Linked DNA regions of Homo sapiens. The protein of the gene in region 1 purifies or fractionates together with the protein of each later gene. This does not show direct contact. Each region holds a gene or a part of one and is shown in the gene's direction. Other genes may lie near its edges. The genes, in order: PAK4, HSD17B4, SUB1, EIF2A, KLHL42, ARHGEF11 and SPIN1.

Region 1 (4,404 bases):
ATCATGTGTGTGCGTCGTGCTTAGCCCGATGCTCAGCACTCAGTAAGTGCTTGGTAAATGTTGAACTTGGTGCGTTCGATGGTTTCCGTCCCTTGCACCCTGTCCCCCTCTGGGTTCTCATCCCGTAGTGAGCTGTAATAACCCCAGCCCCCCGCCCGGGGTCCCAGCTCCACGTGCCAGGCACGCGTGTGCTGTGAGTCTATGAGCATGGTCATGTGGCTGTACCCAGAGACCCTGAGGAGGAGGTGTTTTTAACCTCGTTTCTCTTTTCCCGTGTTTCAATTTTCAGAAAGCACGTTTTTCCTCCATGTGCATGCATTACCTATTCCCCTAAATAATCACTGAAAAACTGCACACAGCACAAAAGGATGTACAGGGACGAGCAAATCTCTTTCCCACCCGCCTGCCAGGCCCTTCCCAGAGATAGCATCATCACCCCCGGTTTCTTTTCTTTCTTTCTTGAAATATTTGTTCCCCCAAGTGCCCGCCCCTCCCTTTTGTTTTTACTCAAATGGAGCGGACTTCCCATGTTTATATTCTGTCCTGTGCTTTGCGTTTCCCACTCCGAAGCTCGCTGTCAGGACACAGAGTGCCGCCTCGTGTCCCACGCACACGCGTGCCCCCACGGACAGCACAGCCATTCTGTGCTGATGGCCATCAGGCCATTCCCATCTTTCCGTGCTGTGAACAGGGCTGCGCCCGCCTGAGTGTGGCTGTGCATATGTCTCTAGGTGTGAGTCTGAGCTTGTGGCCTCGTGGTCTGAGACAGGTGCCCCGTTAACTTTGCCGGTAGTGTTAGTGTTTCACCCTGCTGGGGAGGTTGTCTGGCTCACACTCCCACCCCCCAGTGTCTGATGACACCGGGGTTTCCTCACTCCCTTGCTGGAATAGACGGGTGTCACCTGACATTCTCACCTTTGCCAGTCAGATAGGTGACAAACAGTCTCATCATGGTTCTGATTTTAATCAGAGCAAAGTGGGACAGCTTTGTGTTGTTGAAAGCCATCTTGAGCTTCCTTTTCTTGGAGCTGTCTATTCCTGATAATTTTACTTTCTCTGAGAAGGGGAAACTGAGGCACAGGCCAGCAGTCCCACAGCAAATACGTGGCAGATGTGGCACTCAAACCTTGGCTCCGTTCTGGAGCTCCTAACCCATCTGACACAGAAGAGGTCAAGGGCTTGGCCTCCGGAGCCAGCTTTGTCTCTTACTAGCAGTGTGACCCCAGACAAGTCACATCACCTCTCTGTGCCCGGGTGTCCTCATCTGTAAAATGAGGGTGCTAATGATATCTACTCTTAGAGTTGTTTTGAGGATCTAAATGTATATTCGGCAGGCAAAATGTATAGTAAGTGCTCAAAGACTGTTAGCTGCGTTACTAATAGCCGTATTATTAATATTATAGCTATGTCACCAATAGCCATGTTATTAATATGAGCAGGCACTGTTTGAGTGCTTTCTGTGAACTAACCTACTGGACCCTCCCATCAACTCCAAGACACACGTGTTCTTAGGATCTCCCTTTTCTAGGGAGGAGACTGAGAGCCTGGGGGACCTGGCCCCGTCACAGAGCAAGAGGAACTGGGATTTGGATGCTGGAGGCCTGGCTGGTAATCGCTGTGGCCGCTTCCCCTGCTACCCGGGGCTAAGCCTGAGGGTTACAAAGCTCTCCCTCCTGCTTCCCCCACCCACCTTCTGCTGTCTGCATTCCAGGCAGGCTGCCCAGGAGCTTTCGAGCAGACACCTTGAGGGTTGGGAGCACCGGGTGGGCAGGGTCCTCACCTAGAGAGCTCCCCGTCCCAGACCCTCCCTGCTCCTGCCACCTGTCCTGGGAACTCCTGATAAAGCAGCATTGTGCAGCGGTTTTGAGTTCACTTCCCAGCCCGGTTTTGCCACTCCCACACTTCACTCCCAGAGGCGGAAGGCGGCCGGTCTTCCTGGGCTGCGTGGGGTGCCAGCCCCCCTCCCCTTCCCTTCCCTCCCTCACTGCGCCCACAGTCACCGGTCAGCACTGGCCATGGGGAGAAAGTAGGACCCTGCGGGCCACTGGCCCCTCCACAGACCCGTCCCCAGGTGAAGACCCCTCCCTGCCCTCCCCACAGGAGGCCCCTGTCCTTCTCTCCCGAGGAACCCTCCTTCCCTGCCGCCCACAGGGGCCTCCATAGTTCTGTCGTCCCTTCCCCGCAAATCTTCCACTGCAGCCTGGGCCCACGTTATTTGACTCTCAAATGCTATATATATACACAGCGCTTCTAACTCCACTGCTTTTAAAAAACCTTTAATAATTGTCAATTATAATATGCCCATAGAAAAGTGCATAAAATGCACAGGTAAGTTTAGCAAAGAATTACAAAGTGAACAACGCTTCCCCACCACCTCGGTAAAGACAGAACACAACCTCCCAAAAGCCGCCTGCCCATAACCCCTGTCCATCACGACCACAGTCGTGAGTGCTCTCCTGACCTTGGTGGTCACTGTGTCCTTGCTTTTCCTGATAGTTTTTACCATGAGGTATGCATCCTTGAATTACAGAATGTCATCTTGCCTGCTTTTGAACTTGACATAAATGGAATCTTCCAGTATGTCCTTGTCTGTGCTTTCTTTCGCCCTTAGGCCTGTGAGATCCATCTGTGTGCTGAGTGTATCTGTAGTCATTCATCTTTGTTGCTGTATAATATTCTTTTTTTTTCTTTGACACAGAGTCTCGCTCTGTCACCCAGGCTGGAGTGCAGTGGTGCAATCTTGGCTCACTGCAGCCTCTGCCTCCTGGGTTCAAGCGATTCACCTGCCTCAGCCTCCCGAGTAACTGGGATTACAGGCATACACCGCTATGCCTGGCTAATTTTTTTTTTTAATTTTTAGTAGAGAGGGGGTTTCACCACGTTGGCCAGGCGAGTCTTGAACTCTTGACCTCAGGTGATCCACCCACCTCAGCTTCCCAAAGTGCCGGCATTACAGGCGTGAGCCACTGTGCCCAGCCCCATATAATATTCTGTTCCTCCATCTCCTGCTGCGCTGATGCGAGCCATCTCTTTGTAGCATCTCCTGGGGTGCCGGTGCCTGCGTTTCTTCAGGGAATATACCCAGGAGTGCGTAGCCCAGGGCAGAGGGTGGGGTAGCTTCAGATTTAGTGGGCGCTGCCACACAGCCTCCCAAGGTGGTCAAATCTGTGTATCCTCCTAGCGGTGGTGACTGAGGATCTTAGTTGCTCCACCTCCTCACCAACATTTGGTACCGTCAGACTTTTTGGTTGACCTTGGAACATTTTTATTCTTTTTTCCTGCAAAAGTAACACCACTGGTTATCATCGGGCTGAGCCCCTCATGTTATTTTGTCCTCCCCTTGCTCCTGTCCATTCCGACTCTCACCCATTCTGTGGACAGGAGTCAAGTGCTTATTCTTTTTTTTTTTTTTTTTTTTTTTTTTTTTGAGATGGAGCCTTGCTCTGTCACCAGGGCTGGAGTGCAGCAGCGCGATCTCAGCTCACTGCAACCTCCGCTTCCCAGATCCAAGCCATTCTCCTCCCTCACCCCCTCAAGTAGCTGGGATTACAGGCATGTGCCACCACGCACGGCTAATTTTGTATTTTTAGTAGAGACAGGGTTTTACCATGTTGGCCAGGCAGGTCTCAAACTCCTGACTTCAAGGGATCCACCTGCCTCAGCCTCCCAAGGTGCTGGGATTACAGACGTGAGCCACTGCGCCCTGCCCAAGCGTGTATTCTTTGACCAGCTTTGCGCTGGGGCCCAGCGACTGAAGGGTGAACCCAAACAACAGGCAGCCCTCCCCGAGCTCAGTCCAGTGGGAACACAGACCTCGACTGCAGAGCAACAGAAAGATAAGCCGGGCTGGAGGCTCCCGGCCCCCATCTTCCCACAGTGACCCCATTTTGGGAACAGGAACCCCCATCCCTCGTCTTGTTTCGGGATTAGGCTTCTCCAAATCTGGCACCCTATCACCTTGACTCCTCTCTTGCCCCCCCGCCACATCCAAAGTGTCTGGAAAGCCTGTCACTCTACATGACAATGTAACCTGGTGCTGCGGGCTCCTCTTCCTTGTCACTCCCCTTCCTCGTCATCCCCCTTCTTCGTCACCCCCCTTCCTCGCCACCCCCTTCCTGGTCACACCTCTTCCTCGTCACCCTTCTTCCTTGTCACCCCTCTTCCTCGTCACCCCCCTTCCTCATCATCCCCCTTCCTCGTTACCCCCCTTCCTTGTTACCCTTCTTCCTCGTGGCCCCCTAGTTCAAGCCACCCTCATCTCCCTCCTGGACCATTGAGGCGTGCTCCCTGCTCCCTTCTCCCCCACTGTCCCCACAGTTGTCCGCACACAGCCAGAGGTAGCCGTGCACACCTGGTCAGGGCAGGAACCCTCCCCTGGCTCCACCTCTCCCAGCAGAGAAGCTT
Region 2 (4,404 bases), on another chromosome or scaffold:
TTACTATTCCCCACTTTCCTACCCATAGATACACTCAAATTGGTGTTCTCTGAAAGCCTTTGCAGCTAATATCTGTGCCACATATTTTGGAGCCCTCACATTTTCTAATTTGTTTTGTATGAGTAAGTTTTGCTTTTTGATTAAGATTATGAACTCTAAAAGTGTTAAGGACCATGACTATATTACAGGTTTTTATTTTCCTGCAATTCTGGTGATGAATAGTATGTAAATAATTTCTATGGATACAAACTTGAAGGGCTGAGAAATGATTAAATGTCTAAATATAATGTATTCTTGCCATTTTGTTAAATTCTAAGCATGCTGTCTTATCTTTTCAGCATATTTGCTATATTTTTCTTCAGTGATTATAGATATTCTTTTTCTATTAGTTTTAGGACTCCTTCTCTCCCTGCCTCCTTTTCTCACTTTCTCCCTCCCTTCCTCCTTTCCTTTCTATTCTTAAGATATAAGAAACATTTTAAACCAGTGTTTTAAAATGATTTGCTTGATTTGGTAACAATAAAGTAATTTACTGAAGTGCATTTTGTTCATTAATTATCTCTTTCCATGCTTTTCAATGTATGTAATTTGAAGTAAAGTGAACAAATTACTTGAAAGATCTTTTTTCCTCCAAAATATGATGAGATGTAGTCAAGAGAATGATCTTCTTGATTGTTAAAAATCAAAGTTTTAATAAACGCTATGTTAAACTTTAGAAACTTATCCTATACATTTGTAGCAATAACAATTTTTATGAAAGAATAGCCATTGGAATAATTTGAAATGAAGGACTGGGAATTAGAATTTGAATTCCTTTAATGACTATTTTGATAAAAGCCTATTTAGACATTTAGTTCATGCTGTGTACACTTCCTCTTGAAATAAGACCTGGAATTACTACTTAAAAAACACTATTATGATTTGTTCCTAGCCAATTTTATTCTATATTAGCAGAACAAATGTACTTTGAGTACCATTACCTCATGTGGCTATTGTGCTATGCCTTTTACTATTTATAAGGATTCAGCATGGACTGAATTCTGTTTATAAGAGTGCATCCCCTGATCCCCACTTCCCCCCCAAAAAATGCCCAAAATACCAAGGCCCAGTCTCTATCAGTGTATTTACATTAGAATTTTGGGGGATGGGACCTCATAGGGTTTCTTTGTTTGTTTGTTTTAAAGGGCTCCAGCTGATTATAAAGCCAGGTTTAGTAACAGTTGTATTAAATCAGAAAGCCTTTATGTTTGTTCATCTTGACATTTACTTTAGCAGCCTTTTATTTTATCTGGATTATTATATTCTTTTTCATATGAGGCAAAAATAATAAATTTTAAACTTTGTACTGTTTCACAGTGAAATTACACTTCCATTGTAATCAGAATAAATCTTTTTTTTTTCTTCTCCTCCTAAGGTCCAAGAAACTGGAGACATTGTCATTTCAAATGCATATGTGGATCTTGCACCAACATCTGGTACTTCAGCTAAGACACCCTCTGAGGTAGGTTATAAAAATTAGTATCCAAGCCACTTCCTCATTTAGGAATTTCAGTTAAGGTGACTTTAAGAGTGGTTAGGCTACGTTAGAAAATTAACAACCATGAAACTATTCTTAATTCTTGAAGTGAAAAACATTAATTCAAAACAGCTTGGAATAGAAGGAATACTCTGGCAATTTATGAACTTTAAAAAACTCGTTTTGCAGGATACTAGGATATCTTTCAAGAGAACATAATTTTCTAGTTTTAGAATAAATAAATCAGTTGTTTAATCAGAATCTTAAGCAAACAGCGTTTTGGAGAAAAATAGATTAAAAAGTTGAATATCCTGTACCTTTTTCTTGATTTAAAGGTTTATATAAAGTTTTGTATGCAAATATATAAACCAGCAGCGTGTATAATTTATTAAAACATTGTATTATTTATTAGCATGCTGAGACTTTTGATAAAAATGTTTATATTCTATCTCTGAAATATTAACTTTGTAATGTTGAGGTTTCGATACCCATGATCTTTAATTGTCTGTCATAAACCATATAACTGACTGAAAATTAAAATCCCTTAAGAATAGTCTAAGAAAAAAAAAAACTTAGAGCGGGCTCGGTGCCTCACGCCTGTAATCCCAGCCCTTTGGGAGGCTGAAGTGGTTAGGTCACTTGAGGTCAGGAGTTCAAGACCAGCCTGGCCAACATGGTGAGACTCCATCTCTACTAAAAATACAAAAATTAGCCAGCCTTGGTGGCAGGCTCCTGTAATCCCAGCTACTCAAGAAGCTGAAGCAGGAGAATCACGGGAACCCGGGAGGTGGAGGTTGCAGTGAGCCAAGATTGCACTACTGCATTCTAGCCTGGGCGACAAGTCTGTCTCAAAAAAAAAAAAAAAAAACAAAAAACAAAAAAAACCCAAAACTTAAGTTTTAGAGCTGTAAAGAAATTCAGACTTCATGTAATTTAGTATTATTTTATAAATAAAAAAAATGAGACCATAGAAGTTGATTAATTTGATCAGGATCTTTCTAAAGTTAGCTAAAACATAGGTTGTCCAGTTCCTATTTTTCTTTTAAAATATTATTTCTGAATTCTAATAAAAGTAAAATCCTGTTATTAAGAGGACTGAGGTTCTGAGTGATGTATACAAATAAGAAAGTATGAAAGACACATTGTATGAAGAAAACTGACTTATGTACAGAGTTTTAAAAAATCTTTTTTTTGCACATGTTTTATAATCACTTTTCTCCATGAGTTATTTTTACAGAACTTTTAAAGTTTATTTTGTTGTCGTTGTTAGGGCGGGAAGCTTCAGAGTACCTTTGTATTTGAGGAAATAGGACGCCGCCTAAAGGATATTGGGCCTGAGGTGGTGAAGAAAGTAAATGCTGTATTTGAGTGGCATATAACCAAAGGCGGAAATATTGGGGCTAAGTGGAGTAAGTTATAGCCCTGATTTTATAATATTCTAAGGTAATTCTTAGTAAATAAAGTATCTTTTTAACAATTAAAGACCTTTGAAGGTAGGTAAATCTTACCTTTTTAGGTAAGTTTTTTTTCTTTTCCCGTGGGAATGAATAGGTTTGGGAATGTCCAAAGGGGGGTGTGTGTGTGTGTGTGTGTGTGTGTGTTTGTGTGTGTGTGTAAGAGATGTAGGGAATCAATTGAAATGAAAATAACCTGTTTTAAGATTTCATTGTAATCCTTGAAAGTAGTTTAAACAGTCATCTTGGCTATATGCATCTTTATCTAATCTTCAGCTTCTTAAACATAAGGCAAATTCATCAAGTCAAAATGAAGTATTTTTAAGTCATGATATTTGACAGTTACAAAATTATTTTATTCATACCAAAACAATAATTTGGATTATCTTAATTATCAATATAAAATCACTATTTTCTAGATATATACAGATTATGGTCAAAGGTGTTTGTTTATCTAATCTAGGGAAATTATCTATTAGAGTGCCATGCACCCAATATAAAACATCTTGCCGCAGAAAGAAAGCAGTCATATTTCTTTTCACTGATGTGGAGGTCCAAAGAGACCCTGGTACCATTTTGTGAAGAAAGAGAAATTAGAGGATAAAAAGAATAAAGAAAAAATATTCTGTCAGATCTTTTGCATCTGCTGTGTAACTCACATCCTTAATCATGGCACACACTTTAATTATGGAATATTCTAACCTCACCTTTATTTTCCTAGAGATTCTTCAATTAGGTTGAAAAGATGAAAATGGATAGGAGGTAGAGCAGTAAGTCCCTGAATTCCCTTTCAGCAGAGTCTGTTGCTTGTCACAGTTATCTTACTGTATTATGGTCATTTATAATTGTATGTTTTCTCTCATTTGACTTTGGGCTTAATCCTGAGAAATGGCTGCAGTTTGTCTATTTCTAGCTTCTAGTATAGTCAATAACACATAATAACTAGCCTGATTCTGTATATGTTGGAATGAGTGCTAAAAGCCATGTAGAAAGCATAGTTTTAGAAAATAGTATGGCTGCCTTTTAAAAAAAAGGTTCTGAAATTGATGCTTTACCTTCTATTAAAATAATGTTTATTGTATGGATAGTGATGTTTATTTTTTGTTTAGTATGAGTGAAATATGTAAGTATAATATGATACTGAGATATTTCATAAATAACTAACATATTTTATAGTATTTATTACTATTAATTTCTAAACCCAGCCAGAAGTTGTTGTAGTAAACCCTTTGAATCCTATTTTATTGTTCTAAGCAACGGTAAAAAATCGGAGGAAATGAAAGATGACATAAAGGCATAAGGGAGATAAAGAATCAGAGGATTTATGTGGCCTACAGAATAGTCTGCTCTTGAAAATTAAAACATAGGTACTCTTATCTGAAACTCCAGAAACCAAAAAGCTCTAAAAATAAACAGTTTTTTTTCTCATGATTC
Region 3 (4,404 bases), on another chromosome or scaffold:
CTCGGCTCACTGCAACCTCAGCCTCCTGAGTTCAAGCAGTTCTCTGCCTCAGCCTCCCGAGTAGCTAGGATTACAGGCATCCGCCACCAGACCTGGCTAATTTTTGTATTTTTAGTAGAGATGGGGTTTCACCATCTTGGCCAGGCTGGTCTTGAACTCCTGACCTTGTGATCCAACTGCCTCAGCCTCCAAAAGTGCTGGGTTTACAGGTGTGAGCCACCATGCCTTGCCAAAGTTGGCTGTTTCTTTAGATTCAGAGGAATTATTATCTGGCTTGATCTGAAGAATGTTAAAAGTACTATGATCTGATAATTGCCTAATATGTATGTTACAATCTTCTTAACTAGGGACATTTATTAAAATAGAACAAACTAGTAAAAGTATTTTGTACGATGCTGGATTATTGTTAAAGTCTCTAAAGTCTAGTTTTGCTGTATTTAAACCAATGCAAATTTAATTGAGAACTGCACATTTTGAAAGCAACTTGGAGGAGGCAGGTCAAGTGTTGGGACAGTAAAGTATGAATAGATTATTATGGGACAGGAAGCAGCAATGTGACATGCCTAATTTTGGCCTGATGAGCAACAGAAAAGGGGAATGGGTTGAATAGATAAAGTGAAGGAAGTTCATTAGAGGGACTTGATGAAATCACCTAGAGAGGACTCGTATAGCTTTTTCTCTTGGGTTTCCTGTCTTGTTTTAGGGAGACTTGACACTGGCATCTTTGTACAAGAAGGATTTGTGAGGAAGGGATGTTGGGGAATAAATGAATGCAGGTGAGATTGCTTAGGTAATTGTAGGCTTTAATCTGTATGTGAGGTGATAAGGGCTTAGATGGTTTTTCCTAAAGAAGAAATTATGCCAATTACAAGATACAGGTTAGGAAGAATGGACCAGAGGAATTAGGCAGTCAGTGAAGATGTGGACTTGATTGTGGATGTGATTGAAAAAAAAAATGGTGTTGCTTCTGTAGCACCTGAAGGGCTTAGTTGGGAAATGTTCATGTGGGATTATCAGCATGGTTGACTAAAGCTGCCTACTGAAGTATTAAACAGAGGAAGAACAGGAAGCAGATGAGGGGATGTCTTGGGTTATATTCAGATAGAGAATGGAAGGAAAAAGAGGATGTAGGTTAAGAGAGAGGGTGAAGGAAAATTAGAAGAGTGCAGTAATGGGAGCAAGAAAAGGATGAGTGTTTCCAGGAGCTATAAGTATTAGTTGAAACCAAAAAGTTGGGTGGAACGAGACTACAATTTTTTTTTTGAGACAGGGTCTCTGCTCTGTCACCCAGGCTGGAGTGCAGTGGTGTGATCTCTGCTCACTGCAACTTCCGCTTCCTGGGCTCAAATGATCCTCCTGCCTCAGCCTCCTGAGTAACTGGGACTACAGGCAATGCTCCATGACGCCTGGCAAATTTTCTTTGTTGTTGGTAGAAACAGTATTGCCCAGGCTGGTCTTGAACTCCTGAGCTCAAGTGATGCGCCCACCTTGGCTTCTGAAAGTGCTGGGATTACAGGCGTGAGCCACCGTGACTGGCCAAGACTGTAGACATTTATATGACTAGAAAGTAAGGCTAACACATGTATATTTTGACCTGTTGATAACTTTGAAAGGTGGAGTGCCAAGATTAAGGTGAGAATGGGAAAATTTAAGTTTTTTTTTTCCTATTGCTTATTTTTGCCTTGTTATACTTCTAGGTAAAAAAGATAGACAAAGTGCAGATGAACTATTTAGTTCAGAACACACATTTTAGAGATTCTGTTCTGTTAAGAGGAGTTTTGTGAAAACTAGATCTAATTTTAGGAATTTTCTCACCAGAAAAACGGAGCTTCATTTCTTAAACCCTCATCTGGAAAGATTCCTAAGCCTCCTAAGGCTGACATTGCACCTTTTGAAAGCCTGCCTCTAGGAGGAACATAGGTCATCTTTTCTTTTTTTTTTTTTTGAGACGGAGTCTCGCTCTGTCACCAGGCTGGAGTGCAGTAGCACGAATCTCGGCTCACTGCAACCTCCGCCTCCTGGGTTCAAGAGATTCTCCTGCCTCAGTCTCCTGAGTAGCTGGGACTACAGGCATGCGCCACCACCCCCAGCCAATTTTTGTATTTTTAGTAGAGACGGGATTTCACCTGGTTGGCCAGGATGGTCTCGATCTCTTGACCTCGCCATCTGCCTGCCTTGGCCTCCCAAAGTGCTGGGATTACAGGTGTGAGCCACGGCGCCCAGCCTAGGCCTTATTTTCAGAGTGGCTTTCATGGATCTAGTAGTGTAGGCATTATGAAATAATATGATACTTAATTTCATTGCCATTACAGCTTGATGTACATCAAACATCAATACATAAGCAGTTCTCTAAATGTATTAAAGAGTTGTACCAAAGAAAAATCAATAGACTTATCTTTTAAAGTCTGAAGTGATTGGGGCAGAATCGTGACTAGAGAGAAGATACTAGAGATGCTTACTTCCTGGTTCCTTCAGCTCTGATTTTGAAGAACTTTCTTCCATAGGGATGTAGTCTACCTGAGGTGACATCTGTGATAGTAAAGAGACTGGAGAATTATCTCATAATTATTTAGTACCTGTGTCTTGAAAGGTCAGAATAGTTGAGGCAGGAAACTTTAATCCATATTTTTCTTCAGAGTTAGGCACAAAGGGTCAGTAATACTGCTTTAGTTTATTTGATGATTTAAGGATACTTGATACTTTTAAATTATTTAATTTAAAATGATTATAACTGGTCATTTTAATCTGGGGCAGGAGTCCATAGAATTGTTTTTTAATTTGAGTTTTCTTTTTTGTGTTTGAAGGAATTATTCATAACCTTTATCACAGGGGTCCCTCCTGCACAGGAGGTGAGCGGTGTGTGAGTGAACATTGCAGCCCGAGCTCTGCCTCCTGTCAGATCAGCAGCGGCATTAGATTCTCATAGGAGCGCGAACCCTATTGTGAACTGCGCATGCAAGGGATCTAGGTTGTGCGTTCCTTATTCCTTATGAGAATCTAATGCCTGATGGTGGGATAATTTTTATCCTGAAACGATCACCTTTCCCCTTCCCTACCTGCTGTGGAAAAATTGTCTTCCGTGAGACTGGTCCCTGGTGCCAAAAAGGTTAGGAACCACTGCTTTATCAGATCTTCAGAGGGGACAGGGAATCAAATTCGTATAAGAATCACAGTTCTTTATGATGTATATGCTATTTTTTGCTGCTAATCTCCAGATTTTGTGGATATAAAATATATTGTCATCTGATTTTATTTTTTTCCAATAAAATGTGATTTCAGTGATCTTTATTTTTTCTATCTTTAAGTAATATATCCCTATACTACTATCTCATCACTTGTTTAATTTTTGCTAATAAGAATTTGTCAGTTTTACTCTTTTTTTCCCCCCAAGGGAGAGGCAGCTGTTGGGCAGATTCCTTTTTTTTTTAAAAAAAAAAATGTTTTTGAGGTATAGTTTATGTCCAATAAAACGCACACATTTAAAAGCATACCTTGATAGGCTGTGGTAAATGTACACGCCTTTGTGGCCAGACCATTTTCATCACCCCAGGAAGTTCCTCTTGGCTTTACAGTCATTGCTCATGTCCTAGGTAATCACTGATCTTATTTCTACCACTATAGATTTATGTTGTCTCTTCTAGAACTTTGTATAAATGGATACATGCAGTCTATTTTTTGTGTCTGGCTTTTGCTCAGTATAATGTGTTGAGATTAGTTCTTGTTGCATATATCAGTAATTTTATTGCTGAGTAGTATTTTGTATGATAATACTACAACTTGTAAATCCATTCACCTTGGGTGGACATTGGGATTGTATCAAGTCTTGGGCTATTAGGAATACAACTGCTGTGAATATTCTTGTACAAGTCATTTTGTGGACATTTTTTCCCTTTTGGGTAAATACCAGATACATTTGCTGAGTCGTAGGGTAAATGTGTAACTGTATAAGACACTGTCAAACCATTTTCCATAGTAGCTGTAGCATTTTACACAGCCATCGGTACTACTTAGGAGATTCCAGTTGCTCCACATCCTCGCTAGATATTGTCAGTCTTTTAAGTTTTTTTCTTTTTAGTTACATTGAATGTATAATGGTAGCTCATGGTGGTTTTACTTTCCATTTCCCTCATGTACATGTCTTAATTCATTGTACATCTTTAGTGTGTTTATTGGTTATTTTTATATCTTTTGTGAAGAGTATCTTTTGGCCACTTAAAATGCCAGGTCATTTGAGTTGTAACACTTTATATATTTTGTCAGATGTAAGTATAATTAATATTTTTTTTAGACTTCAGGGAAACTTTAGTTTTCAAAGCAATCTAGTTCAAAAATGAGTGGAGGTTAACAGAGAGGAAAATATGAAACCAGAGAGAATCAAACAGACAGAATAAGGGGGGACTGGCA
Region 4 (4,404 bases), on another chromosome or scaffold:
GCCTGTCCTCGGGTGAGCCACACGCCTCTGCCTCCCAAAGTGCTGGGATTACAGGTGTGAGCCACCATGCCTGGCCAGAAATCTGTTTTTCTTCATCTGTAGGTTCTTGCTTTCCTCCAGATTAAATTCATCTTTAAACTGACATTCAACCAAATGCCCAGCTCCAAAGGAAAGAACACATTTTTGCCAGTAGTCTCAGCAAAAATCTCAAGGCTAGCTGCCTTTGACTTTGCTTGGCTCACCTTTGTATCAGTCAACTTTTAATCATGTAGTCAGGACTAAATTATCTTCCCACTCCTCGATACTCCTCAAAAGAAAATGAGCGCCTCCTAAAGAAGAGGAGCTGGTTGCTAGGCACATAAAACAGCAATGTCCATTACGTGAAATTCACATTGTCTAATCTGCTTGACCAGTTGAAGTCACAGAGATAATTTATTCAAAATTGAGTGATTTTCCTAAACTAATACATAGTTCAGTGAATGTAAGAGTTGGGAAAAGTATCGTATTTTAAAGATGACTACACCCCTGCCATGGGATCCTTGTTTATTGAAGCCCTGTGTTTTTCTCTCTCTAACTCAGGCCTAGAGCAATAAATAGTATATGAATGTCTAAAAAGGCTAGTAAGCTTGGAAAAGATTATGTAGATGTTTAATGTATTTCACACAGCTACTGTGTGAAACTGGCGTTTATTTGTTGTCTTAAAAGAACTGCTTGCATTCTAGATTTTTCTTTCTGCTAGAACATATTGCCAATCCCATTTGATTGAAGAGGGAAATCACTAAAAACAGGGAATCACACAAACTCAGAATACACTATATTAAGCTAACTACGCATTGTATTTAGTTTCACAGATACTTGTAACTAAAAAGGATTCCTTGTTAGAAAGTTACATGTAGAAAAAAATTGTTTCAGTATTGAGAAGTTTTTTAGTCCCTATTTATTTTTGCTTTTATTAGTTTAAAACAGTTTATGTTCTGTTATGGACCTGATTTTGTGTTTTTTTCTAATAAACTTTGTATCACAGCTTATCAGGAGTAAATTAAACTGTATATGCTTTTATTAAATTTATTTAATAGAAAAACTAATTAAATCTAGCAAGGCATCTTAGAAGTACAAAATGTCAGTTTGGGCCAGGTGGCTTACAGCTGTAATCCCAGCACTTTGGAAGGCTGAGGGAAGCAGATTGGATTGCTTGAGCTGAGGAGTTTAAGACCAGCCTAGGCAATGTAGTGAAACCTCGTCTCTACAAGAAATATAAAACTTAACATGGCTTGGTGGTGGGTGACATGATCATGGTTCACTGTGGCCTTGACTTCCCAAGTCCAGGTGATCCTCCTGCCTCAGCCGTGCGAATAGCTGGGACTACAGGCATGTGCCACCGTGCCCAGCTAATTTTTGTAGAGACAGCATCTCCCTATGTTGCCCAGGCTGGTCTTGAATTCCTGGGCTCAAGCCATCTGCCTGCCTCGGCCTCCCAAAGTACTGGGATTACAGGTGTGAGCCACCACGCCTAGCCTGAGCCCTATTTTGTTTTCCAGCTTCATCATCCTCTAGCCACACAGGCCTTCTTTCCATCCCCTTGACGCTCTGTCGTTTTTCTTTCCATGGGGTTTTTGCACTTGTTAACTGTTCTCCTTGCTTGTTAACTGCCATTGATCCTTTACATCTCAGTATACAAAACACTTAAGGATGCTTTCCCTAACCTTCCATTTTTAGGTTAAAACTCTCTTTTATACCCTCAGTGGTACCATATACCTTTCCTTTGAAGGACTAAACACAGGTATATGATTCCGTATATTTGGCCAATTATTTGATTACTGTTTGCAAAGTTCAATGAGGTCAGAGACAAGGCTGATTTTCTTTCCTATTATTTCGCCAATGTTCAACACAGGGCCTAGGAGGTAGTTTGTTCGTTTTTTTCCCACTAAGCATTTGTTGACTAAATGAATCTATTTATTTGGTTCAGCTTTAGAAGCATTTAATTCAACCATTTAAAAAAGTATAGTCTAGGCTAGGTGCGGTGGCTCACACCTGTAATCTCAGCACTTTGTGAGGCTGAGGAGGGAGGATTGCCTTAGCCCAGGAGTTAGAGATCAGCCTGGGCAACAGTGAGACTCTGTCTCTACAAAAAAAAAAAATAGCCAAGCAGGGTGGCACATGCCTGTAGTCCCAGCTACTTGGGAAACTGAGCCAGGAGCATCACTTAAGTCCAGGAGTTTGAAGTTGCAGTGAGCCTTGATCATGCCACTGTACTCCAGCCTGGGTGACAGCAAGACCCTGTCTCAAAAAAATAAATAAATTTAAACATAGAAATAAGAAGTATAGTCTAGTTCTGTAGATGATTATTTAATCTTGAACTTTGTTTCCACTTAATTTTTTAGGCTATTACTGTCATTGGGGCCTTAATAAATGAATATGTCTCATTCCACTTGTTCTCTTAGTTTGATAAATTGTGAATATATTAATATTGCCTTATATTTCTAAAAACTTTAAACATATACTTTTTTTATTACTTTATATAAAGCATACAGCTATCCTGTGTTCTGATATTTCCATTTTACAGATTAGGTCACAGATTCAGAGGTGGTAACGTATCCAAGGTTCCACAGGCAGTTATAAACTTAGGTCAGGCTCTGAATTCATGTCCTCTTTACCACAAGACAGCTGCCTTTCTTTCAGTGGTGACAAAGTTTCGAGTTTTATTTAAAAAGTTACGTATTTCTCAGCAATTATATGATTTTATGTAACAGAGTAAGAAAATATGCCCTTTTGTTGCTAATATTCTATAGTTCAATGAAATATTTAATGATTTCATTAATATTTTGACTAAAGCTGCTTTTTTAAAAAACACATTTGTGTTAACTGAGTCTTTATTAACAAAGTAATTGTGGTTCTTTTTATTTTACTTCTTTAGTCCGAGGATCAGAAGGACTGTACATGGTGAATGGACCACCACATTTTACAGAAAGCACAGTGTTTCCAAGGTATGATTTATTTTGTTAAGTAATGTTATAGGGAACATACAGTACAATCTAAAATGGTTTTGTTGGTGGTGTATTTTGAACAAGAAAGGAAAAGAACAGATGAACTCATTTTTATTGTATAATATTTACCGAAGATGAAAAGAATACATATTCTCTATCAAGGAAAATGATCTTCAGATCTGAAAATAGTAACTTAAGCCTATTTATAAGGTAGGGGGAACAATACTAAGAAAAAGTGTAGACACTAGTGTAATTGAATACAAGCCTTTATTTTACAAGAGTTGTATCTTAAGGAATGAGAAAAACTTGCAAATTTGATAGCCAAATCATGGCCAGTAATCTTAGTGAAATCATAATGAAAAAGATATTAAAAAGGGAGGACATATATATGCACATAGTATATAGCTAGCTAGATTAATTTTTTTTTCCCCAAAGAAACAATGGACAAGTAAACCAAAAACTAGTTAAAAATGCTTATCTATAGGGGGAGAGAGTTACAGAATGCGGGGGAGAGAGTTACAGGATGCAGGGGACACATCTGTGAAAGAGCTTTGGTATAGTTTTGACTTTGGACCATATAATTGTTTTAAATTTAAAAATTAAATTAAAAGCTGGGCCCGGTGGCTCACGCCTGTAATCCCAGCACTATGGGAGGCCAAGGCAGGCCAGATCACCTGAGGTCAGGAGTTCAAGACCAGCCTGGCCAACATGGCAAAACCCCATCTCGGCTAAAAATACAAAAATTAGCCGGGTGTGGGGGCAGGCGCCTGTAATCCCAGCTACTCTACTCGGGAGGCTGATGCAGCAGAATCGCTTGAAACCCGGAGGTGGAGGTTGCAGTGAGCCAAAATCAGGGCATTGCACTCCAGCCTGGGCAAAAAGATGAGACTCCGTCTCAAAAAAAAAAAAAAAAAAAATTGGGAAACTAAAATAAGTGATTCTAGCTTTATATCAGGTTGGTGGCATAACCATGTGAAGACCTGCAAAATTCTTTTTTTTTGAGACTGAGTTTTGCCCTTGTTGCCCAGGCTAGAGTGCAGTGGTGCAATCTCGGCTTAATGCAACCTCTGCCCCCCAGGTTCAAGCGATTCTCCTGCCTCAGCCTCCCAAGTAGGTGGGATTACAGGTGCCTGCCACCATGCCTGGCTAATTTTTTTGTATTTGTAGTAGTGACAGAGTTTCACCGTGTTGGCCAGGCTAGTCTCAAACTCCTGACCTCAGGTGATCCACCTGTCTCATCCTCCCAAAGTGCTGGGATTACAGACGTGAGCCACCATGCCTGGCCTAATAGTTTTCTTTTTAACTGAAAGTTGATATTGTCATTTGAATCTACTATAGGATAGAGTAAATTAATTGTATTAATGTTGTTAGGCACCAAGATTTTTCAGCATTAGAGTGAAAAGATAGACTTGCCTATATC
Region 5 (4,404 bases), on another chromosome or scaffold:
CAGAGAGGGCATCATGGTTGGATTTTAAGGACCATTGGCAGCAAGAAAGGTAAGCAGCAGGAATCAGGGACCCCCCAGTACCTGCCACCCTGACGTCTGTTGGCACAAAAAAGTGGGCTGGCTGGCTGGCTGGCTGGCTTTAAGGGACAAGACGAGGCTCTTGATGAAGAGTACTCTATTCACGCTCTGATTGGAAAAACAAACTAAAACACATTTAGATATAAACATGATAGGAACCTTTAAAAAATCTTAACTGTTTAGTAGGTGCCTATTACTAACCTAGTTTCCATAGTGTAATGCATCAGTTTTATTGAACACTTTTTAGGGGATCAAGCATGGGCTTCTTGTTTACTGCTTCTTCTTAATCTACTCCCTTATATAAGTTTTTTGTGTGTGCATAGCCTCTACCTCCATTCTTTCTTAGTATATTATTATTTTTGAAGACATCATTGTGTTGGGGTTGGATGTGGTCTTGAAATTCACTTGGTCTAGCACCTTTATTTCAAACACTAGAAAACAGAAATTTGAATGATAGTATTTTATCTCTGTGTAGTAGTTTCTGATAGACTATTTGATTTAATCATCTCTACCACCTTGTGATGGCTGTTACCCCATTTTACAGATGAGGAAGTGAGGTGGTTGGACCAGGGTCAGATAGCTGGTTATCAGCAGAGCTGGGACTAGAAGCGAGGTCTTCTGATTTGTGCTCAGGTTTTTTTCTGTTGCATCATGCTGCTGCTCATCCTCTTGTAAACTTGTGACTGTTGCACACCTCACAGCAGACTGACCCAACACTCCCAAGAGTTTATCCTTCCTGCCTTTTGTGTGCTATATCGAAACAAATTAATTTTGTGTTACTATTCAGTTCAAAAATCATAAGACTTATTTAGTGTCTGAAGCTGATAAGCAGCATTTAATTATTTTCTGAATATAGAGCTGGAAACCATTGTCCATCTCTTTTTCAAGTTATTATTTTTATGAAAGATGAGCATTTGTCAATAGAAGTATTTGTTGAATTAACATATGTAAAGACCCTAAGAATGCTGGATCAAAATATTTTGAGGCTGGTTGTGGTGTCTTATAACTATAACCCTAGCACTTTGGGAGGCTGAAGCAAGAGGATCACTTGAGGCCAGGAGTTCAAGATCATCTTGGACAACATAGTGAGATGCCATCTCCACAAAAAACTGTTTATAAAAAATTAGCTGAGTATAGCTGAATATGATGATACATACCTGTAGTCCAAGTTACTCGAGAGGCTGAGGCAGGAGACTCTCTTGAGCCCAGGAGTTCAAGGCTGCAGTAAGCTATGACTGTGCCACTGCAGTCTAGCCTGGGTGACAGAGCAAGACCCTGTTTCATAAATAAATTAGTAAATAAATAAATACAAACTGTGAATTTGTTCAGTGCTGACCTCTCCCCATCTTACATGTTGTGAAGCAGTATGTTAGATGCCCTTGGAGGCGGGAGGCAGGACCAGTGTCTTGCTCAGGTATACTCGTTGTGCAAGGATCTCCTGACCTACCCTTTAGCAGTCACTCCTCGCACCTGCCTGTCTCGACAGCACCAGTGTGTCCCTAAGATGAAGCCATACTACTCAGTAGGAAGAATGAAATACCCATTCTGAGAGGTGAAAGACAATGGGGTGATGTGGGTGCCTTCCCCTCTTACCCTTGTGCCTGCCCCTGAAAGAAAGTGTGGAGTTTAGTGTATACACATTGTCTTTGGTTGCTGGACTAAGGCTGAACAAGATTAATAACTTGTTGTATTGAACTGCTTATCTTCGATAGCTAGTGTTTGGACAGTGTGCCATTCCCGTGGAATCTTGGGGACAGGAGTGAGATTCGAGAAGCCATCCTTTCCTCCTCTGTCCTCAGGCGGAATGGCCCCCAACTGGGAGAGCGAATTTTCTTCAGATGTTCAGGAGAGTCTAGTAGTTCATGCCATTGTTACACTTTTCATTGATCAGAAGAACTAACTCTGTGGGCCTTTGTGTCTCTCTTTCAGGTCTAACTTCAAACTTGTGGCTGTTAATTCAAAACTCTATGCCATCGGAGGGCAGGCCGTTTCTAACGTTGAGTGTTACAACCCCGAGCAGGATGCGTGGAATTTTGTGGCGCCCTTACCCAATCCTCTGGCTGAGTTCTCTGCCTGTGAGTGTAAGGGAAAAATTTATGTCATTGGAGGATACACTACCAGAGGTAAGTGAAGGGACCAGGTAGGTGGTCTGCCCATGTGTAGGCGTCAGCAGTCTGGGAAGGGCAAGAGGGTGTCAGAGGAAGCCCCGACATATCCGAGTGTCATGTTATGCTTTAATAGTGTACACTTACACATCTGGAAGGAAGAGAGTTCCATATGGCAGGGATGATTGGGACAGGAGGGATCTTTTGATAACTTTGTGTGAGCATGAAAATCGAATGGGGAAGGGAGAGCTGTGAAAAAAAAATGTTATCTCTTTTTTTTTGCTTCTGGAAACCCAGCTTTTTGGTCAGCCGTCTTGTGATTTGGCTGGGCCTGGTTTGTGGGGGTCGCTCTCTGAGGTTGGGTAGCTCTTTGGAGAAGATTATCTGGGAACTCCCATCCTTATCCCAAACATACACCAAACCTGCCCCCATCCACCATTATGGAATTTAGTACCAGAGCATCCTTGCAGATTAGTTCTCATTTTCTCTCTTTGTGAGCACACACACATCAGGTAGAGGTTCCAGAAACCCAGCTTTAGGACACTGTTCACATATCACAGGAGGAGCAAGGACATGAATACAAGAGAGCTCTTTCCTGACCAGCAGTGGGAGGTGGTTGTACTATCTATTTATTTGTTTATTTATTTATTTATTTTTTGAGATGGAGTCTCCTTCTGTCACCCAGGCTGGAGTGCAGTGGCGTGATCTCGGCTCACTGCAATCTCTGCCTCCTGGGTTCAAGCAGTCCTCCTGCCTCAGCCCCCCAAGTAGCTGGGATTACAGGCTGCACCACCATGCCCCGCTAATTTTTGTATTTTTAGTAGAGATGGGGTTTCACCATGTTGGCCAGGCTGGTCTGTAACTCCTGACCTCAGGTGATCCACCTGCCTTAGCCTCCCAAGGTGCTGGGATTACAGGTGTGAGCCACCGTGCCCGGCCTGGTTCCACTATTTATTAAAATGTATATATGTGTTTTTCACTTTTTTGGTAGGCATTTTATTGTTAATAATTTGGAAATTAAAAAAATTTCTCCACAAGCTTATTTTTTGTGGAGACAAGGTCTCCCTGTGTTGCCTAGGCTGGTCTTGAATTCCTGGGCTAAGTGATTGTTCTGCCTTGGCCTCTCAAAGTGCTGGGATTACAGGCATAAGTCACCATGCCCTGCTTGCCAGCAAGTTTTATACTGCTCTTTTTGGTAGGGAATTGTCTCAGGTTACAGTGATAGAGAACAATGTAGTTGTTGGTGGGATACAGTGGCTCATGACTGTAATCCAGCACTTTGGGAGGCTGAGGCAGGAGGATTGCTTGAGGCTGAGAGTTGAGGACAGGCCTGGGCAACATAGCAAGACACCTTCTCTAAAAATGAAAAAAATTAGCTGGATGTGGTGTCATGTACCTGTAGTCCCAGTTGCTTGGGAGGCTGAGGCAGGAGGATCACTTGAGCCTGGGTGTTCAAGATAGGCCTGGTCAACACAGCAAGACCCCTTCTCTAAAAATGAAAATAAAAAAATTAGCTGGTTGTGGTGGCATGTACCTGTAGTCCCAGTTACTTGGGAGGCTGAGACAGGAGGATTGCTTGAGCCAGGGGTTTGAGGCTGCAGTGAGCTATGACTGCTCCCCTGCACCCCAGGCTGGGTGACAGAGTGAGACCCAGTCTCTAAAATAAAAAAAAAAAAAAGAAAAGAAAAAATAAAACTGTGGTTGTGGGAAGACAGACAATGGGGGACAGTCAAGCAGAGGGGTGCCTTTCCTTCCCTCTACTCTCCAAAGCAGATGTCTCCAAGTTACCTCTTAGCCAAGGAAATCTATTTCTGCATTTGGTCTGTGTGACTCTATGGAGCCCAGGACTTACAGAAAAGGTGTAACCTGGCTCTTAGGACTTTAAGCCACATTATGGTAGTAGACCTGCCGTTTTATTTGACATGGTGAAATAAACTACCACTCCTTTGTGGTACCATATGGGCAGGACAGAGCTCTTCAACCCTGGCTAACAAGCCTGAAGAAGACCCTGTGAGGCCGCAGCAGCCATGGGAACTTCCCAAAGGACAGAAATCCACATGCTAACGTAGCATCCAGATAGGTGACAGAAATTCCTTCCACCATATCCAAATGTGTCCTGTTTTGGGGATTTATGTTAGGAAGAAGTTAAAATGTAAAGTATTTGATGAACATCTGATTTATTTCTTTTTAGAATAAGTCGAAACATTAATTCAGTGGGGAA
Region 6 (3,403 bases), on another chromosome or scaffold:
CTTGAGTTCATCGCTCAGCATCTCCCCCAGCTTGGGGCCAGACTGAGCAAGTGTCATCTAGAAGGTCTCGGGAGCAGGGCTTTTAGGGGGCTGGCAGACAGTGAGCAAGGCCCACGTTCTCTGAGTTTGTCTGGAGAGGACTGCCTGGCCTGCTCTGTCAGGTGGCTGGGGAATCCCACAGGAACGGGAGGATAGCTTCGACTTCTCTGTTTGCCTCCTGATCTCATTCTCTTACTGTGGGGACAGGGAACTGCTTTTATGTCAGCATGCCATCAGGACCCCCGGACTCAAGCACCGACCACTCAGAGGCACCCATGAGCCCCCCTCAGCCTGACAGCCTCCCTGCAGGGCAGACAGAGCCTCAGCCTCAGCTGCAGGGAGGCAACGATGATCCAAGACGCCCCAGCCGCTCTCCTCCAAGCCTGGCCCTCAGGGACGTGGGCATGATCTTCCATACCATTGAGCAGCTCACTCTCAAGCTCAACAGGCTCAAGGTGAGGGAAGCAGGGCTTGGGTCCCTGCAGGCCTTCAGTCCATCACCCCAAAACCATTCCCCATGAGTGAGATGTGTGTCTTCGCGGGAGCCCTAGATCCTGTCCTGGCCCAGGGATCTTCCCCCAGCCCGCCCAGCCACCCTTAAATCACACCCTCCTCCCCAAGGCCCAGCACAGACCCCTTCCCCAGGGGCCTTAGGAATAGAAGGACTCGAGCAGACATTCCCCCGCCGACTCTTCCAGGATATGGAGCTGGCCCACAGAGAGCTGCTCAAGTCCCTTGGGGGAGAGTCATCTGGTGGCACCACGCCTGTGGGCAGTTTCCACACAGAAGCAGCTAGATGGACAGATGGCTCCCTCTCACCTCCCGCTAAGGAGCCCCTAGCTTCTGACTCCAGGAACAGCCATGAACTGGGGCCCTGCCCTGAGGATGGTGAGTGAAGCCAGGTCCCTCTCGGTTCCTACCATTGGGGGAGAAGTCTGCCAACTCGTGAGGACACATCACTAAGCAGTGAGAGATGGTGGTTCTGAGAGTGGTTTCCCCTTGAGTGAAACGAGTTCATTCTCTCAGCTTCAGAGAGGGATCTTTTTAGGGAAGTCCCACAGAAGCTCCCTGGCAAAATGGGGAGCTTAGCACTGAGCCCTCTTTTTCCTTGTGCTATGGAGGTAACAAACCAGGAGGAGCCTGTTCTCACCTCTAAGACTTGTTCTTTTTTTAATTTTATATATATATATATATATATATATATATTTTTTTTTTTTTTTTTTCTATTTATTTGAGACAAGGGCTGGCCTGGCTATGTTGCCCAGGCTGGTCTCAAACTCCTGGGCCGAAGTGATCCACCCACCTCAGCCTCCAAAGCAGCTGGGATTGCAGGTGCACACCATGGTGTCGGCCTAAGACTCGTGCTGATTAAATGATTCAGAACCACACTGGGTGGGCCAGGGACACAGCTATGTCATAACTCAGGAAGACAAGGCACATACCTACCTGACCTAAGGGCTTTAGGCGCTGATGAAAGTGGAGTTCAGTAGACAGCCCTTTTCAAGCCCTACGAGAAACTGGGGTTTCTGGAGGAGAAGGAAGGTGATGAAGGATCTGTTCTCGTGAGCCTGAACTTTCTAGACAAAACATGTGGAAGCGGTCACCTCAGGCTGGCCAGTTCCTCACCTTCATCCTCCTCCCACAGGCTCTGACGCCCCCCTGGAAGACAGCACAGCAGACGCAGCCGCGTCACCAGGACCATAACCGTACAAACCACCAAATCCTCTGCGTCCCCACTCCTCCTTCAGGGACTGGCCTGAGACCGGGGCACAGGGTAGGGGGGATCCCAACACTCCTCCCTGTGGAGGAGGCAGTTAGGGAAACTAGGATCCAGCCAAGGCCCGGGGGGAGACCCGCATGTTGCTTGGTCTGCTCAAGTCGGAGTCAGGTTTCAGTGTCTTTTCCCTCCCTTAGCCCAACCCTCCAAGGCCTCATGTCTCCTAAGCATGCTGACTGCATCCGAAAGGCCCCCACTCACCATGGTCTGCCCTCACCCCACATATGTGTGTACACGCGCACGCCTGTATGTGCGCTGCCCTCAGACATGCAAGTGAAAGGAGGAGGCTTCTGTGTAAATGCACTTTCTTCCTCCCCTCTTTCTCCATAAGACCCCAGGCAGAGGTGGGTGCCTCCCCTCCCCTCTTTGTCACTTTGGTTTCCTATAAATATGTATGTATCGTATGTGCATCTTTGCTATTGTAAATAACTTTGACCTTTTTTGTTCCTGTTCCTGAAGTGCTGGAGGCAGTTATGGAAGGAGCTGCTTAGGGAAGAGGGGTTTCACTTGTATCTCCTTAGTTAACAACCCAGTTCCAGGATCGAGCCTAAAGCGGGAGCCAGGCCTGAGTGTTCCTGTCCCTGTGAGTGGGAAGGTCTTCTGGCTCCCCATCCCACCTGGCTCCAGAGCCTGCCCTCCACAGCTTGCTGCCAAGCTACTCCCTCCCTCCCTGGACTTCTCATCTTCACAAGATGGGGATCATGGGGGTTTCTTACCCCACCTATGTCCCCCTCTTCCCCACCCTGTCCCTGTAGAAAACCAGTGAAGCAGGTACGGAGCTGAGGACTGGGCCCCAGGAGGTGGGGACAGGGGTCTGAATGCCGAGTCCCTGAATTCACCCAGGACCATCCAAGGGGCCACCGCAGCATTGGCCCCATCACCACGTCCTCACCCAACTCTCCCTGATGAATAGAATATACACACTGTGCTAGGTGTATATATACATATATATATATATAAATATATATATAATATATAAAATATAGATATGGAAATGACTGTTCTGCTGTTAAGATAATGTATACTCTTTTATTTTCTTCCTTTCATGGTTAAGATTTTTTTTTTAAGAAAAGTTAAATATCCTTCAGTGGTGGTGTGTGTGTTTCTTGGAATCGCTGTGATAAAAGGTACGGTGTTTGTTCCCTGTAAGACTGGTTAGGATTGGATAGTGGGAACCAGAGGGAGCCCTCTCACCCCCAGACCCAGATCTTGCCTGTTCCCTCCCAGAGCTTCAGCTGTGCACTCACTGAACTAGGGACTGGGCAAACTTAAGTTGTACAACCCCCATGGAGAAAACATGACAAGACACTGAACTCAGTTACACACACACAGATATATATATAGATACATATATATACACACATATATAGATATACACACACACACACATATATATACACATATATGTGTATATAAAGGAGCAGTGGACCCAGAGTCAAGAGGTCTCATGAGCTGCCCTCAATGAGCTTGAAGACTTTAAAAGCCAAATCTAAGTGGGAGGGTTGCCTCAGGCCTGGCCAGTTCATCACTGTCATCATCCATCCACATCCTCCCACAGACGCAGCCACATCACCAAGACTGTAACCA
Region 7 (4,404 bases), on another chromosome or scaffold:
TTATGTTTTTCTTAAGCTAAAGTTAGAGAAAAAAGTCAGTCAGCCAGAATGCATGTGATGTCACAGAGCAGTGGTTCCCAAAGCAAGGCCTGGGGACCCTTGGGTTCTCTGAAGCCCATTCAGGAGATTTGCAAGGTCAGAAATATTTTCATTTTGTTAAGCTGTAATTCGCGCTTTTCACTCTCTCTTTTTCTCAATTACACAGTGGAGTTTCCCACTATCTATTTGGAAGATTTGCATAACTTAGTGAACACAATATTTTCTTTATGAGCAGTGCATGGTACCACATCATGCATTGGTGAAAGAGCTATTCAAAGTGCAAGACTAACTACTTTTTTTTTAATTGTAAAAAAACATAGCATAAAATTTACTGTCCTAACCATTTTTAAGTGTACAGTTCAGTAGTGTGTTAAGTACATTCGCATTGTTGAAACAGATCTCCAGAACTACTTCATCTTACAAATCTGAAACTCTCTACCTATTAAACAAAACAACCTACCTTTCCTCCCATTCCCAGCCCCTGGCAACCACCATTCTACACTCTGTCTCTATGAATTTGACTATTCTAGATATCTCATAGAAGTGGAATCACACAGTATTTGTTTTGTGAGTAACTTATTTCACTTAGCATAATGTCCTCAAAGTTGGTTCATGTTGTAACGTGTGACAGGATTTCCTTTAAGGCTGAAAAGAACATTCCATTGTATCTATATACCACAGTTTGTTTATCTGTTCACCCATTAATGGACATTTGGATTGCTTCTACCTCTTGGTAGAATGTAAAATTGTACCATGTAAAATTGTGAATAGTGCTCCTGTAAACATGGATATGCAGATATTTCTTTGAGATCCTGCTTTCAGTTGTTTTGGATATAGGCACAGGAGTGGGATTGCTGGATCATATGGTAATTATAATTTTAATTTTAGTATCGTAATTCTAATTTCTTAGGTAGAACTACCATACTGTTTTCCACAGCAGTTGTACCATTTTCCAGTCCTACCTACAGTATACAAGGGTTCCAGTTCTCCATCCCTTAGTCAGCAGTTGCTATTTACTGTTTTTGTCATAGTGGTCATCCTGATGGGTGTGATACGATACCTCATTTTGTTTTGATTTGCATTTCTCTGATGATTAGTGATATTGAGCATCTTTTTATGTGCTTGTTGGCCACTTGTAAATCATCTTTGGGGAAATATCTACTCACATCCTTTGACCATTTTTTAATTAGGTTATTTTGATTTTTGTTGAGTTGTGAGAGTTCTTTATATGTTCTGGAGACATGAGTTTTAATGTAACAGTATGACAGATTTATTAATGGTTTCAGATTCTGCATTGTAACTAACCTTTAAGGAGCTAACTGTTGAATTCTGTGGTTTCATATAAGTATATCTAGAATTATCTGAAAGACGATTAGAATATTCTTTTCAGTATCATATCTTTGAGAGGCTGGATTTTATACCTGAACTGAAAGAGCAGATCATAACAGATTGAGTGCTAAAGCAGATATGAGAATCTACTTGTTCTTTTTAAAACCTAGACATTAGGAGATTTGCAAAAATGTAAAATTAAGCCACTCTTAATGTATTTTGATAGGAAATAGTTATTTTTAATTTAAAATGCATTGATATATAGGTATTTTTAAATAAATGTTTCTAGATTTGTTTTTCATTTTCTGAAGTAGTAAATATTGGTAGGCATTATCTATGTAAACAGATGCTTTTTTAGGTCTGTAGTAATTTCCATTTATGTTTTAATTTTTTTTTTAGAGACAGGATCTCGCTTTGTCACCCAGGCTGGAGTATAGTGGTGTGATCAGGGCTCACTGCTGTCTCAACACGTTGAGCTCAAACAGTCCTCCTGCCTCAGTCTCCTGAGTTGCTGGGACTACAGGCACTCACCACAGTACCCTGCTAATTTTTAACTTTTTGTAGAGATGAGATCTCATTATGTTGCCCAGGCTGGTCTCAAACTCCTGGCCTCAAGCAATCCTCCTGCCTGGGGCTCAAAGTGCTAGGATTATAGATGTGAGTCGCTGTGCCCAGCCAGTAATTTTTAAGAATGCACATGGAGTTCTGAGATCTAAGTCTGAGATCTACTGGCTTTAAGAAACTAGTGGGGTTTTTTTACTGTCATACACGGGGGGAATTCTGTGTAATTTTTTATTATTACTGCGTACTTAAAACCAGCCATACATGTTTAGGGTTTGCTGATAAAATTAAATAGCAATACATGTATCAAGAAAATCTCACTTTTTTGTTTCTTTTGATGTAACAGAAATAGAAGTTTGTTGAATGAGGAAAATAGGAGAGCTAATTGTTTGTTGTTGTTGTTTTTGTTGTTGTTAAGACAGGGCCTCACTCCCGTAGCCCAGGCTGGAGTGCAGTGGCGCCATCTTGTCTCACTGCAGCCTCGACCTCTGGGTTTAGGTGATTCACCACCTGAGCCTTCTCAGTAGCTGGGACTACAGGCCTGCACTGCCACACCTGGCTAATTTTTTGTATTTTTAGTAGAGACGGGGTTTTGTCATGTTGCCCAGGCTGGCCTCAAACTTCTGGGCTCAAGTGATTCGCCCGCCTTGGACTCCCAAAGTGCTAGGATTACAGGCGTGAGCCACCGTGCTTGTCTCTAATTGTTTGTTTGTTTGTTTGTTTGTTTTTTAAAGATAATTGTTTAAATTTGGTATAAAGACAGTTATCTAAAATTGTGGACTGGAGAAGTCTTAAAACCAATGGGATCCTTCATAGTTTTTCCAGTATTAAAAAGATGAAGGTGATAATTTTCACCACTTTTGAAAAATATTAAGGGCTAGGACCGTTAATCTATCATTTCAGAGACCTGAGCTCCCAACCACATGGGGTATCTGATTAAATCATACAAATACTGACCTGCTATGATCTAGGTATAAAACAAGAAAGGGAAGGTCTCTGCTTTCATGGGGATGTACAAGCAACTAACAAGTACACAAATAACATAAAGTGGGATAACTTTAGATCATGGTGAATGTTATTAAGAGGTAAAATTGGGTAATGTGACTGGGATTTGTGGGGCTACCTTGTTGGTCAGGAGAACTCCAAAAGGAACCGGCCTTCTGAAGGTATGGGGAAGAGCTTATCAGGCAGAGGAGAGTGTGTCCTAATGGGAGAGGAAGAAGAGCAGAGTAGAGAACGCATGAACAACAAGGAGGAAGATGGGAAACCTGAGGGCAGAGGCGTGAAGGCTTTTAGGGCTTGGGGGCTATGGTGAGCAGTTTGGTTGTTTTTCAAATTATAAAGGGAAGGCATGGGAACATTTTAGATCACACAATGTGGTATCAGTGACACAACGATTACTTTGGTTGCAGTGAAGAATAAGATTGTAGGAGCAAGAGAGTAAAAACCTATGCCTTAATAAAAAAATGGAAATAAGACTGAAGGAAAACAAACACCAATTTCTTTAAAAAAAAAAAACAAAAAAAAAACCCTCTGTGCCTTGAATAGCTTTTCTAAGTTTTAAATAAACGTTCTGTGGTTATGTAAGATGCTAATACAGGAGAAGCAAAGTGAACCGTATACAGGAACTCTACTATTTTTCCAGTTCTTCTGTAAGTCTGAAATTATCTCAAAATTTAACTGTTAAGTAAACAATAACAAACAGTATTTTATACCTTGAATGAACAATTAAAACTTTTGATTTGGGTACAGAACCAAGAGCAGATGAGTCCAGAAAAATAAAAAATCATATTTTTTTCAATTAACTGACTTGGGACAAAATACTTCTATTCTGTTGAATCCATCTCTGAGCTGGGGCCCAGTAGTTTGTCTTTGGTTTTTGTACTTTTTAAAGCTTTCCCAGATTCTGATGCTTGCTAATACGTTGCATGGACAAAATTTCAGGTGTAGCCTTCTTTAGTAAATTCAGTCTTCATAGTCGGTAATCAGCGAAACACTTTGTCAACTTTTTTTTTTTTTTTTTAATCCCCAGCGACATCTCGAATCAGCGATGCACACTTGGCAGACACAATGATTGGCAAAGCAGTGGAACATATGTTTGAGACAGAGGATGGTTCTAAAGATGAGTGGAGGGGAATGGTCTTAGCACGTGCACCTGTCATGAACACATGGTTTTACATTACCTATGAGAAAGACCCTGTCTTGTACATGTACCAACTCTTAGATGATTACAAAGAAGGCGACCTTCGCATTATGCCTGATTCCAGTAAGTATATATTGGCAACTTTTATATGTGATAATTAGAAGGGATTTGGACTTCAGTACAAGATATTTGATTGGCTCTTTTGCAGATACATTTTTATTTTTGGATATATGATTCTTTTAGTCATGCACAAACACAGCCTTTGAAATTTTTCATCCAGTTGTTATAAATGTTAGATAAGAAAATATTTGATAGTCAGTTCTGCTTGGCTT

Evidence for each region.
Region 2: the proteins of PAK4 (region 1) and HSD17B4 purify together in Homo sapiens (co-immunoprecipitation; one large-scale study listed by IntAct). This does not show direct contact.
Region 3: the proteins of PAK4 (region 1) and SUB1 purify together in Homo sapiens (co-immunoprecipitation; 2 studies listed by BioGRID and IntAct, with this or other methods). This does not show direct contact.
Region 4: the proteins of PAK4 (region 1) and EIF2A purify together in Homo sapiens (co-immunoprecipitation; one large-scale study listed by IntAct). This does not show direct contact.
Region 5: the proteins of PAK4 (region 1) and KLHL42 purify together in Homo sapiens (affinity purification with mass spectrometry; 2 studies listed by BioGRID and IntAct, with this or other methods). This does not show direct contact.
Region 6: the proteins of PAK4 (region 1) and ARHGEF11 purify together in Homo sapiens (affinity purification with mass spectrometry; 4 studies listed by BioGRID and IntAct, with this or other methods). This does not show direct contact.
Region 7: the proteins of PAK4 (region 1) and SPIN1 purify together in Homo sapiens (co-immunoprecipitation; one large-scale study listed by IntAct). This does not show direct contact.

Annotation. Positions count from the first base shown.
Region 1 is NC_000019.10:39,131,927-39,136,330, forward strand, and holds part of PAK4 (serine/threonine-protein kinase PAK 4), read left to right. Parts: intron 1-2,260; exon of another isoform or gene 2,261-3,278; intron 3,279-4,404. UniProt on the Homo sapiens protein: Serine/threonine-protein kinase that plays a role in a variety of different signaling pathways including cytoskeleton regulation, cell adhesion turnover, cell migration, growth, proliferation or cell survival.
Region 2 is NC_000005.10:119,528,480-119,532,883, forward strand, and holds part of HSD17B4 (peroxisomal multifunctional enzyme type 2), read left to right. Parts: intron 1-1,414; coding exon 1,415-1,501; intron 1,502-2,786; coding exon 2,787-2,925; intron 2,926-4,404. UniProt on the Homo sapiens protein: Bifunctional enzyme acting on the peroxisomal fatty acid beta-oxidation pathway.
Region 3 is NC_000005.10:32,591,767-32,596,170, forward strand, and holds part of SUB1 (activated RNA polymerase II transcriptional coactivator p15), read left to right. Parts: intron 1-4,404.
Region 4 is NC_000003.12:150,549,442-150,553,845, forward strand, and holds part of EIF2A (eukaryotic translation initiation factor 2A), read left to right. Parts: intron 1-2,914; coding exon 2,915-2,984; intron 2,985-4,404. UniProt on the Homo sapiens protein: Functions in the early steps of protein synthesis of a small number of specific mRNAs. Acts by directing the binding of methionyl-tRNAi to 40S ribosomal subunits.
Region 5 is NC_000012.12:27,789,701-27,794,104, forward strand, and holds part of KLHL42 (kelch-like protein 42), read left to right. Parts: intron 1-2,007; coding exon 2,008-2,201; intron 2,202-4,404. UniProt on the Homo sapiens protein: Substrate-specific adapter of a BCR (BTB-CUL3-RBX1) E3 ubiquitin-protein ligase complex required for mitotic progression and cytokinesis. The BCR(KLHL42) E3 ubiquitin ligase complex mediates the ubiquitination and subsequent degradation of KATNA1.
Region 6 is NC_000001.11:156,934,340-156,937,742, reverse strand, and holds the end of ARHGEF11 (rho guanine nucleotide exchange factor 11), read left to right. Parts: intron 1-246; coding exon 247-494; intron 495-737; coding exon 738-927; intron 928-1,498; exon of another isoform or gene 1,499-1,612; intron 1,613-1,684; coding exon 1,685-1,743; 3' UTR 1,744-2,903; downstream 2,904-3,403. UniProt on the Homo sapiens protein: May play a role in the regulation of RhoA GTPase by guanine nucleotide-binding alpha-12 (GNA12) and alpha-13 (GNA13). Acts as guanine nucleotide exchange factor (GEF) for RhoA GTPase and may act as GTPase-activating protein (GAP) for GNA12 and GNA13.
Region 7 is NC_000009.12:88,464,411-88,468,814, forward strand, and holds part of SPIN1 (spindlin-1), read left to right. Parts: intron 1-3,961; coding exon 3,962-4,195; intron 4,196-4,404. UniProt on the Homo sapiens protein: Chromatin reader that specifically recognizes and binds histone H3 both trimethylated at 'Lys-4' and 'Lys-9' (H3K4me3K9me3) and is involved in piRNA-mediated retrotransposon silencing during spermatogenesis.